3 linked regions of the Homo sapiens genome follow. The protein of the gene in region 1 purifies or fractionates together with the protein of each later gene. This does not show direct contact. Each region holds a gene or a part of one and is shown on either strand. Other genes may lie near its edges. The genes, in order: RNF103, PEPD and HADH.

Evidence for each region.
Region 2: the proteins of RNF103 (region 1) and PEPD purify together in Homo sapiens (affinity purification with mass spectrometry, with the first as the bait; one large-scale study listed by BioGRID). This does not show direct contact.
Region 3: the proteins of RNF103 (region 1) and HADH purify together in Homo sapiens (affinity purification with mass spectrometry, with the first as the bait; one large-scale study listed by BioGRID). This does not show direct contact.

What each region holds. Positions count from the first base shown.
Region 1 is NC_000002.12:86,606,866-86,610,365, forward strand, and holds part of RNF103 (E3 ubiquitin-protein ligase RNF103), read right to left. Parts: intron 1-3,500. UniProt on the Homo sapiens protein: Acts as an E2-dependent E3 ubiquitin-protein ligase, probably involved in the ER-associated protein degradation pathway.
Region 2 is NC_000019.10:33,518,861-33,523,190, reverse strand, and holds the start of PEPD (xaa-Pro dipeptidase), read left to right. Parts: upstream 1-1,399; 5' UTR 1,400-1,430; coding exon 1,431-1,447; intron 1,448-4,330. UniProt on the Homo sapiens protein: Dipeptidase that catalyzes the hydrolysis of dipeptides with a prolyl (Xaa-Pro) or hydroxyprolyl residue in the C-terminal position.
Region 3 is NC_000004.12:107,992,847-107,996,568, forward strand, and holds part of HADH (hydroxyacyl-coenzyme A dehydrogenase, mitochondrial isoform 2 precursor), read left to right. Parts: intron 1-3,722. UniProt on the Homo sapiens protein: Mitochondrial fatty acid beta-oxidation enzyme that catalyzes the third step of the beta-oxidation cycle for medium and short-chain 3-hydroxy fatty acyl-CoAs (C4 to C10).

The sequences.
Region 1 (3,500 bases):
CTCCTGGGCTCAAGCGATTCTCCTGCCTCAGCCTCCTTGAGTAGCTAGGACCACATATGCACGCCACCATGCTAGGCTAAGTTTTAAAAGAATTTTTTGTAGAGTTGGGGTCTCACCATGTCGCCCAGGCTGCCTTTTGTTTTTGGTTTTAGTTAGTTTTTCATGTACCACACAGAAGAGTTAATCTTTTGTTTTTAAAAAGTATTTTTTTTTCCAAAACCTACCATGTGAAATTTTTAAGTAAAATTTACCTCAATAAAGTTGTAAAAAAGACAATCTACCACATGGAAACGTTTTATTTGTTACAGATTTGTATATGCATAGTAATAAATATCTGACTTCGCATTTTGCTACTCAGAATATTGATGTAAAAGTCATAGATGTTATGCTTTACTTAGCATGGATTATATTTTATTAAATAAACATATTACACATCATATGATCAGATGAAGAGAAGAGTCTTGACGTAGGTAGCATATGGCTGTATAATGATAATATGACTAATTTTATCTCAGGGATTCTGTGATATAGTTTAAGATAAATGAAGACAACACGCTATGTCTTAAGACAAGGTTAGTGATGACTCTGGAAAACTGTCTAGGTGACTCAAAATCACAGACTGTGACTCTTAGCTTCTTGTTGAGTTGATTCACTACCTTAATAAGACAGATTCCATTAATATCATTACTGTTTTAACTGAAATGGTCTGAAAAGTATATATTCCTACAAAATAAATATCTTCTACTCAATGCAAAATAATAATTCATTGATTGACATGAATTCTATTTTTACCGTATCCCAAAAAAGTAACAAGTCAAATGCATATGGACAACTGTCTTATTTATATCTTAAATATCTTCAAGTATCTTTAATGTTTTCATTGCACTTGATATTTGTGATGACACATTTCAACTCTTGGCCATCTATTTTATCTTCCTACTATGGCCTCTGATTTGTGTCATAAATTAAATGACAGCCTTTCTGACAGAAAACTTACTTTGTAAAATGAACAAGTTCTAAGTGCAGACATTTCTTCACATAAGAAAACAAACATATTATGTGCTTTCTTTTCAGCTCAGAGCTAAGTAATAATTTTATCATTCCAGATAGAATAAGGTTGTATTACCTTACATCAATATAAAAACTTTTATTGCCAATTCAAAAAAAATTTTTTTATGATCTGAACAAATTCAATGACAATACCATGAAAATATCCTCTAGTTTTTAAACTAAACCTTTTGAGTTCTCTTAGAGAATTTTAAGACTAAAAACGATAGGAAATATGCCTTGTGAGTTTTGGTCTTCCAGTTGCTGATGTGGCATGCTATATTTAAGAAGAAGCAGGGCTCAGTGGCTCACACCTGTAATCCCAGCACTTTGGGAGGCCAAGGTGGGTGGATCACTTGAGGCCAGGAGTTTGAGAACAGTCTGGCCAACATGGTGAAACGCTGTCTCTACTGAAAATACAAAAATTAGCTGGGCATGGTGGCACGCACCTGTAATCCCAGCTACTTGGGGGGCTGAGACACAAGAATCGCCTGAACCCAGTAGGCTGAGGTTGCAGTGAGTTGAGATCGTGCCACTGTACTCCAGCCTGGGCAATAGAGTGAGACTCCATCTCAAAAAAAAAAAAAAAAAAAAAAAAGGAAGAAAGGAAGAGAGAGAAACCTTAACATTTCTGTTTATATATGCTGTTTTTTCAGACAAGGTCATTGGCCTCCTTGGTTTTCCTCGCTCTCTCTGCAATCCCCCCTTCTCTTCTCCTTCCCCGTTTTTTCCACAGGCCACCATCCCTGACACTCTTGCCATAAGGCTTCCTGTTTACCACTCAGCTCCTGCAATTTCCATGTCCTCTATCTTCTCTTTACTAATCCCCATCTCCCCAACCCTCTCTACACATCATTACCACCTCATCTCCTACTTTGTCAAAAAAAGTACAGAGTATGAACCTCACAGGAAAAGCCCTCTGAAATCGATCTGCTGGTTAGGGAATGAGAAGAGGTAGAGCCAGGCAAGGCCACTCCTTCTGGGTACATAGGGAAAGAAATTAAAGCTGCTACAACTAGACAGTCAGAAGTTGCTCAGAAGTGGTAGTCCTAAATGTTCTTAAGGGAGCTACTCTGGTTTGGTTATGGTTTGTCTGTCCCCACCAAACCTCATGTTGACATTTTCTTCCCAGTGTGGCAGTGTTGAGAGGTGAGGCCTAGTGGGAGGTGTCTGGGTCATGGAGGTGGATCCCTCATGAACACTTAGTGCTGCTCTCAAGTTAGTGAGTTCTAGCTTTGGCAAGACTGAATTAGTTCTTGTGGAAATGGAGTAGTTTCCTCGAGAGTGGGCTGACATAAAGCCACATGCCCTTCACATGTGTCCACTTCCCCTTTGACCTTCTCTACCATGTTCTGGCAGCACAGAAGCCTCACCAGAAGCTGAGCAGATGCTGGCACCATGGTTCTTATACAGCCTGCAGAACAGTGAGCTAAATAAATCTATTTTCTTCATAAATTACTCAGCCTCAGGTATTTTTTTTTTTTTTTTTTGAGACAGAGTCTCGCTCTTGTCACCCAGGCTTGGAGTGCAGTGGTGCAATCTCGGCTCACTGCAACCTCCACCTCCTGGGTTCAGGTGATTCTCTTGCCTCAGTCTCCCGAGTAGCTGGGATTACAGGCACCCGCCACCACGCCTGGCTAATTTTTGTATTTTTAGTAGAGACAGGTTTCACCATGTTGGCCAGGCTGGTCTCCAACTCCTTACCTCCGGTGATCTACCTGCCTCAGCCTCCCAAAGTGCTGGGATTACAGGCGTGAGCCACCACTCAGCCTCAGGTATTCTTATACAGCAACACAAAACAGACTAAGGCAGGAGCTAAACAGGTCAGGAAAGTACAGCTGTACAGTGGGACCAGCACACTGAAGTCAGCTGCCCAGAGGCCACCCCAGAGAAGGGACTACAGTCAAAGAATGCAGCATAGACAGTGGGGCACAGAGTTTTGGTATTTTTAAAACTCCAAAATCAAGATGATGACTCAATTATTCAAAATATGTGATTAAAACACTTCCTGAATAACACTATTCTCTGCCCACTTACACCCTGCATTGAAATTCTGAACACTCTTCTCTATATCTCTAAATTTTGTTCTTCTATATCTCCATAGTCATCAAAAGAAAAGAAAAATGACCCTGACTAAGCATAGCTTCTATGGCAAGAACAATTCTTATTCCAGTTGGAGGACTTTCCAAATGAGGAGTCATGGGCACATTATTGGAACTGGTACAAGTCACTGTGCAACAAAATCATTTTCTGATGAAGCTGAGTAGAAGTACTTTTTTAAATAACAAAAACTATAGCTACAATCAACAAAAAAGCAAAAAGTTATCCAAAAAAACATTGCTTCAATTGTAAATAAGAGGTAGGATTATTTGAAGATGAAGGATTTAGAGGAAAACATCTGGAGCTAGCTTGTATGTATCTCTTCACCATTTCTCAGCTAATACAGAATCAGA
Region 2 (4,330 bases), on another chromosome or scaffold:
AGGGATGGTACTGGGCTTCCAGGTAACTGTGCCACGTGCCCTTCACTACCCTGCTTATGGCTGGCTCCCTTGCTCCTATTTAAGGGGCCTATTCTCCTCCCTGCTTCATGGGGACAAACAGAAGCTGCTTCTCCAGTCATAGCCCCTGGCTCCCACCAGCCTGGCCATGGTGACCCACATCCTTGTTTCGATAAAGAAACAAGAAGCATCCCCCAACCCACAACCTTTGATCAGAAGCCACTTCCAGCTGTGGGACAGCTGCAGGGTGGGGTCAGGAGCCCCACACGCCTATCCTGGGCCACCCATCCACCTGTCCACACACATCTGTACACCACACACATCTGTACACCCTTGGCGCCAGGGACGCCCTCCCCCAACAGTGTGGGGCCCCCTTCCTTCACAGGGGCAGTGAGGTCACTCCTCAGGGTATGGCTTCATGAGCTCAGCCTCTGTGTGAGCACTCTCTGGCCTCAGTTTCCTCATCTGTATAATAGACTTAAAGATAGTCTCGACCTCATAGGGCTGTGGTGAGGTTTCTATGAGCTCACATGTGCAACGCATTTGGGCCGTGCTTGTAATGCCCTGACTCTGTTGGCAGTAGGGAGGGCAGCGTCTGCTGCAGGGTCCCTACACCTTCTCTGCAGGACTCTGCACCCAGTACCAGTGCCCAGTGGGGCAGAGGAGTAAGCCTTCTGGCAGACTCTCCCTCCTAAACCCTTCTCGGCTGTGCCCACTTCTCGCCTGCCCTCCTCCCTGGCTTCCCTTCCTCCAGCTTCTCCATTCTGCAGCCCAGGAAACCTAGAAAAGATCCTACCAGACTTAACTCATAGGCCCCACAGTGGAGGCCCCGCAGGGTCTGGCCCTTGCTTCCCTTAGGCTGCCCCTCTCTCGCGCACATTCTCCTGGACGCTGCACATTTAGAGTCCTCCAGTTGCCCCACGGCCTTTGCTCAAGCCCTTTCCCTTCTTAAACAAAAATCGCCACCTCTGCCCCGACCCTAGCCTGGGTCAGTCTCCCTCCTCTCCTCCCACGTGGTTTCTTTATTCCTATGTGTTCTTCTCCCGGGTGGGCTGGTACGCCAGATCGGGGACTGAACCAGAATCAAGATGTCCTCTGCTTCAGGACCTCCCTCCCACCACGAAAAGGCTGCAGATGCTGCCCGCTAACCCGACCTACTGTCTGCAGCCGGCAGCCCGCTCATTTATCCTGGCCGAGCTCTTGGGCCCCCAATCTCCGGGAGCCCCGCCCCATCGGGGCTCCGCCCTTCCCCAGGTACCGCCCCTTCCCGTCCCGTGGAATTTGGCTCTGGAGGAGGTGGGTCAAGGACTCCATGCCCCGCCCCCTGCCCCGCCCTTACCCCGCCCCATGCATTGGCACCCGGAGGGGCTCAGCTGACGCCGCACTTCACGTGACGCCGGTGCCGGGCGAACATGGCGGCGGCCACCGGGTGAGTGCTGCGCCTCCCTCGCTCTTTCCCGCTGGCGTGGAGAGGGGCATGGGTGTCCCGGCCGGACCGCGGGTGAGAGCGTCAGCCGGGGTCGCTGAATGCCGCGGGTAGGCGCCTCTTCCCGTTGGCCCGGAGTCCCAGCGCCGGTCGGCGAGCTGCACGCTCCGAGTCAGGGTCAGCGCGGGGGCCGCAGCTCCTCTCCACCCTCCTGGCTGGCTCCGGCCCCACCTGCCCGCGTCTGGCGGCCCCACCGTGTGCGGCTGCGGTGGGGGCTGGGGTCGACACGCATGTTCGCTGCCAAGACCCCCGGGTAGGAGGGCGGCGTTGCGAGGACCCCAGGGACCCGGGCGCTTCCCGGAGGAGGCGGTATTCGAGACGGACTTGGAATTCCCTTTTCCCAGCAGGGCACTTCCCCATTTCTTTCAGGGGCCAAATGTCACCCCCTCAGGGAATCCTTCTCTAACCATCTATCCCACTTTTTGTGCCCTCATCATCACCTGATAAACTATATAGAGCATTGTTTGTACTTGTTCTTTATCTTCTCTGCATTTAGAGTGCAAGGGCAGGTATGTTACCTGCTTCTCAGTAGCCCGGTGCCTTGCACACAGTAGGTGCTCCATACTGGGCTAAATGAAAGAAAGCTGAGTGGTCGTAGTGGGAGGAAGGGTGGACAGATGGGTTCACCAGAGCGTTGGGCGGAATCTCCCAGATAGGGAGCATCTGAGCCCAGGGTAAGGGACAAAGGTTGAGAGTTCAGAGTGTTCTGGGGACAGGGGTGCATGCCTGGGGCTGGTTGGAAGGTGTGGTGTTCCAGGTGGCGGCTTCAGACTTTGCCCTGATGGGCTGGAAGGGTTTTGTTACAAGCTGCTTGATCTGTTTTTTAAAGATTAGGCTCCCCTGAGCTATGTGTGAGTTCAATGGGAGAAGGTGTGGGTCTGGTGGTACAGTGGGGTAGAGGGGGCATGGTGTAGGAGGGAGCAGTATTCCAGATGCCAGGTTGGAAACTGAGGTCAGAATGGGGGATCTAGTGGACTGAATGCATCTCTCTTTTTAAGATACAGGGAAAATGGCAACAGAAAGTGGGTTCTAAGTTGGCCCCCAAGGTTGAGGGAGCTTAGAGCATACAAATCAAATATTTTGTGGGCACCTGCTATATTCCAGGAATAGCAGTGGGTCTTCCCTTAAGGTACTCACAGGCCACTGGAACAGATGGACACATGGGACTCTGTCATCCATCTGCTTGCCGTGTGGTCTTGCCATTTGCAAAGGAGGGGCATGGACTCTGAGCTCAGATAAAGTGTGGGAAGGCTTCACTTCCTGGGTGACTTTTGTGCTAGTCCTTCAGCAATGAGACTCCCTTCAGGTAGAGAACAGTGCAGACAAAGTCTCAGATGGGTGTCAAGGAACTCAGGGTCAGATCCTTGAATCCAGCCTGTGACCCTTTTAAAGGGTAGACTGAGCAGGCTGGTGCCCAGCTGTGGGTGTGCTGTCTCTCTGGTTAGGCTGGCTCGGTGCTCACAGGGAGTGCCAGGGGTTGCATTTGGGTTCAGGATTCCAAGCTGGCCTGAGACCTGCTGCTCTCCTGAAGGAACCAAGCTGATGTCTGGACGGGAGCAAGTCTGGAACTGACTGGATCCTGGAATGAGAGCTTTTCTTTTTCTCTTTCTTTTTTTTTTTTTGAGACGTAGTTTTGCTCTTGTTGCCCAGTCTGGAGTGCAATGGCATGATGGCTCACTGCAACCTCCACCTCCCAGGTTCAAGCGAGTCTTCTGCCTCAGCCTCCTGAGTAGCTGGAATTACAGGCGTGTGCCACCACACTCAGCTAATTTTTTGTATTTTTAGTGGAGATGGGGTTTCACCATGTTGGCCAGACTGGTCTCGAACTCCTGACCTCAGGTGATCCACCCGCCTCCGCCTCCCAAAGTGCTAGGATTACAGGTGTGAGCCACCACGCCTGGCCCCAGAATGAGAGCTTTTCTAGCAGAACCGATTCTCTGGGCCACCACACAGGGTGGGTGAGGGAGGCAAAACAGAGTGGCAGGTCTTAGAGAGGTCTGCTATTGAGAGGGTGTGGGAGCTTCCAGAGCCTGGCAGTCTCCTTGGGAAGAGCCATCCCAGTCTGGTATGGGGCTTTCCCATGTACTTTGAGCCTGAGGTTGACCCCAGTGGCTTCCTTTAGAGCAGAATGATTAAGTGTGTTTCCCGCAAAGCTCAGCTCCTAGCCACACTCACAGAACAGATCATAGAGTCAGGCATAACGAGGCATGATGCCAGCAAGTCACGGCCATTGCCGTGGGCTCACTGGGAGTTGGGTTTGGTTGTCTGTAGAATCCTACCAGAGCCTGGGACAGAGGGGGTCCATGAGAGTTCCAGGTGACTGGGGTGTGCCCCATATGATTTGGGGAGTAGGGGAAGCCCTAAACTAGCATCTCAGATTTAATTTGAAACTCAAGAATCTACTCTGAATGCATCTCTCTTTTTAAGATGTGGGGTGTTTCAGGGTTGATCCTACTTTCTCTTGCTAGCCTGGGTGTAGGCTTCAGGTTGAGACAGAGTGCGCTGAGGTCACCTCCCATCCCCTCATGGAGAGGGGTCCCTATCCCATGGCACTTGGTGGCACTGCTGCTGTCTCCTTAAGCAATGCTTTGAGCTTTCCACAGACAGGATTGATAATTTGAAATCTGTCAGCTCCAGCCAGACCTGTCTGCATCTGCTCTCCCACATGGCTTTTTCCATTCCCTTCTTCCCTTGCACACTCACCCAACTAGCCCTGGAATGTTCTTGTCCTCTATATGATTCTTCACGTATTTGCAGGCCCAGCTCAGATGGTTCCCTTTCCCAGAAGCCTTTCCCAGCCCTCGGGTAAAGGTTTAGTGCTCAGAA
Region 3 (3,722 bases), on another chromosome or scaffold:
GCTCAAGCCTGTAATCCCAGCACTTTGGGAGGCTGAGGGGGGCAGATCATCTGAGGTCAGGAGTTCAAGACCAGCCTGGCCAATATGGTGAAACCCTGTCTCTACTAAAAATACAAAAAAATTAGCCAGCATGGTGGCATGTGCCTGTGGTCCCACCTACTTGGAAGGCTGTGGCAGAATAGTCTCTTGAACCTGAGAGGTGGAGGTTGCAGTGAGCCGAGATCGCACCACTGCACTGTAGCCTGGGCAACAGAGCGAGACTCCGTCTCAAAAAGATAAATAAAAAGAATAATCATCATCTTCATTGCAGTTGTCCTGTCCTTTTGCCCTTTTCCCCTCATATCCACTCCCATCCTGATCACAGCTGCTGAGGTAGGCCTGTAAGGTTTAGATGGAGAATATTGGTCATGATTCCCTGTTTCATCTTGCTTAATCTTGAATGCATATACCCGCTGATGCTGCAGCGGGTATGTTTTTTCAGGGACCTCTGAAAGGAGGGAGAACACTTTTTAGTTACCCCCCATTTTATTGTTAAACTTTAGTAAAGCCATAAAAGTACAATCACAAACTAGTATTGAGGTTATGTTACTGATTTTCATTAGCTTAATTTTCTTGAACTTTCTGACGTGGTTTTAATGTTAGTCAAGGTGCAGTTCTGCTTATAATTTTAATAGTTTTGTCATTTTAAACACGTCAGTTTGTGCTCAGAAGGATGAAAAAATATTTAAATAGATTTTGTGGGAGCCTGATGCATTTCTCAAGCAATTAAGCAATTTAAGACAAGTTCAGTGCTTAATTACATTTGATCAGAGCACAGGCCATTTGTACATGTGTATTTTCCGAGAGTATCTACTTTGCCTGTCATTTCTTTTGTTTGTTTTAAATTAAAAAAACAAAAAATCCCTTAGACTGCAGGTTAATATTTGAAGTTAACTTGTTTCATGTGTTTGCTTATTACACACTTCTGACTTGGTTTTGATTGCTAATTTATCTTCACTGGATACTTAGGCCAATAAAGAAGCTTATAGGATTAAATGAGCCTTGAGTGGGGGACAGGTTGTTTTTTTGCTTTATAAAGAGGAAAACAAGAAAGGAAGAAAGCTGGTAGCTGTGTGCATTTCTCCAGTATTGAATCCTTTCTAGGCTTTGCTTCATACATTGGGTTTTTTCATATGAGGAGCCCAGAGAGAATGCATAGCTTTCATTAGATTACTTGTGAGGAGCCAGTGGGCTCCCTGGGAACGGGGCACTTCAGATGTCCCCCTTGAGACACTTTACATGCTCTCCGGGTGCAACCTTCTTTTTAGTGCACTACTCTTCTTTGAGGAAGTGAGAAAGTTTGCATCTTAAAGGGGGTTGGGGATAGGTTCTTCTCTCCCAAAGCTTGCTTTTTTTTTTTCCTCCTTTTTAAAAAGCAGAAAGTGCATATTTTTTCTAGAGAGAGCTTCTTTGGCTATTAAAAACAAAGTAAGGGCAGGGAGAGCCTGCTACGTTGCAGGGATTTTGTGTGACTCTACCATGCTTGATAAGGATTCAGGTAGACCTGAAAGCTTCTCCCCAGCCACTGGATTTGTTCTCTCATCTCTTCTTCTTGCCCCCAAATCTGCATTTTCTGATGCTGAAAAAGAGAATGATCAGAGTTGTTTCATATTTTTTTAGCTTTATTCTCTTCTACTGTGAGTACAGCTCTGTTGAGCTGTACAGTACAGTACTGCTTTGCTTGCAAAGCAGTACAGATGCCTAGGAGAAGTTTCAGGATCACAGGAGACCAGCAGTTACCTGGCTGTAAGCTCTCCTTTTGACTGTTCCTTATGGAGGGAATATTTGTACTCCCAGTTGTTACCTTCCTGCTGAAGGACATGAGATGTGTCTGTTTGTTATGAAGTTTTCCCCCTACTTCCCGAGTTGTTGCTTATCTTTGTTGGGCTGTTCTCTGCTCTTGGTTGAGGTACTGGGATGTAGAACCACCCTCTATTAGCATATTAGTTATTGGACTCTGGGTGAGGTTGGAGATACTGTCATTCCTAGAGGGTAGAAGAGGTAGGGCTCACAGGCAACAGAAAATAATGCTATGGGATATGTTTGGACATTTTTTAGAGCAGAAATGGCACTTCAGTCAGTCAGGTTTTGGCATTTTCCTGCCATGTTCTGCCTCCAGCTTTAATCACTTGCCCCTTGCTTGAGTTTCTTCTTTCTTCCCCTCTCCCTTCTCTCTTATCTGTGGTAGGCACACACACCTCACTCTCTAGTTCTCCTGGGACCACAGGAAGATAATGTGGATGTTCTCTGTGGCTCCCCCTGTTATATTCATGATGTTATTATTTCTGGTAGTGGTATTCTAATCTCAAAAGTACAGGCTATGAGGTCCCTGCCAGGGTTTAGATGCTAGCCTTCCTATCCTGCCTTTAGGAACCTTGGGCAAATCACTTAACTCCTCTCTGCCTCTTTACTTACCTGGGAATAATGAGACTCACCTGACAGCTGTGAAAGTTAAATGAACTAATATACAAGCTCCTAGAATAGCATTAGTGTGTTTGATAGTAACTGTCTGATAAATATTAGCTGCTTTCACATAGACCCATCAGACCTGATCTAGTGAGGATTTCTCTTAGATTGTCTTCACTGTCGGAAGAGTTTTGATATAGGGAGTTCCAGCAATTCTAAAGATGTTAAGACTTATTTATGTGGGTTGTTGAGAAAGATAGTGTACCATTTACTGGTTTTTGTAGAGCTAAAACCACTCTACAAAATATGACACTTTATTCTGTTCAAAGAATTTTGATTTATTTAATTTCATGTGACCATTACAATAATCACCCCTGCAGAGATGGTTCCTGGGGTCAATGGTCAGAGGCAGAGCTGGGGTTAGAACTTGAGTTCTCTTCTGTTCTGCTGCCTGTAAATCCCCAAGCCTGAATTCAGTTCTGCCTGCACCTCTGGCAAGTGCTGTATTGTGGGGAGAAGTGTGGCATCCATGGCAGGGGATCCTCTGTGGCTCTCTGGAATCAGTACATCCCAGGTTGACGTCTCCTTGGCTCTGGACTCAAAGTTAGTCTACCTGCTGGTCGTCTACATCAGGGTGCTGTGCTGCCATCCTTCTGCCCATGGTAGACTCAAACTCACCTGCCAAGATCTAATTCATTATTTCCCCTCCAGCTTTTTCCAGAGAGCTTGCCCCTCCTGTTGCTGCAGTTGTTCTTCCAGCCACATGTACTCTGAAGATGGGATCACAATCAGTGTCTCCATACCAGAAAAGGCTCTGTAACTTTTTGGTCATGGGAGAGCTCTTTCCTCTGCCCTCTCCTTTGCAGTTCCTAGACCAGGTGTGTTAACCTGAATTGTCATGGGAGCCTCTTAATTGGTCCTTTCAGCAAAAACTAAAAGAAAAAACCCACTCATCATGGCAAACATTGTCATATTAGTCTTCCTGGAGAGGCATTTGGATTTATAACTCTCCTCTACCCGGAAAGTGTCCATCATAGCAACATCTTCCAGGGATTCTTAAATATAACGATGCTGTTGACATGTCTGGTTATCCCTTTACCTTTTCAGAATTTGTGGGAGGTGAGAAGTCTGGGAGAGGTTATCTGGGTTATTATGAAACCTACACACTTACTGAATTAAAAAAAAACTATGTAACACAATTCTAGTCTAAAAATGGGCGCACACTTTCTTTGCCTTTTAGAAATACTTTTTGAAATGTAAAATTCGAAGTCTAATAA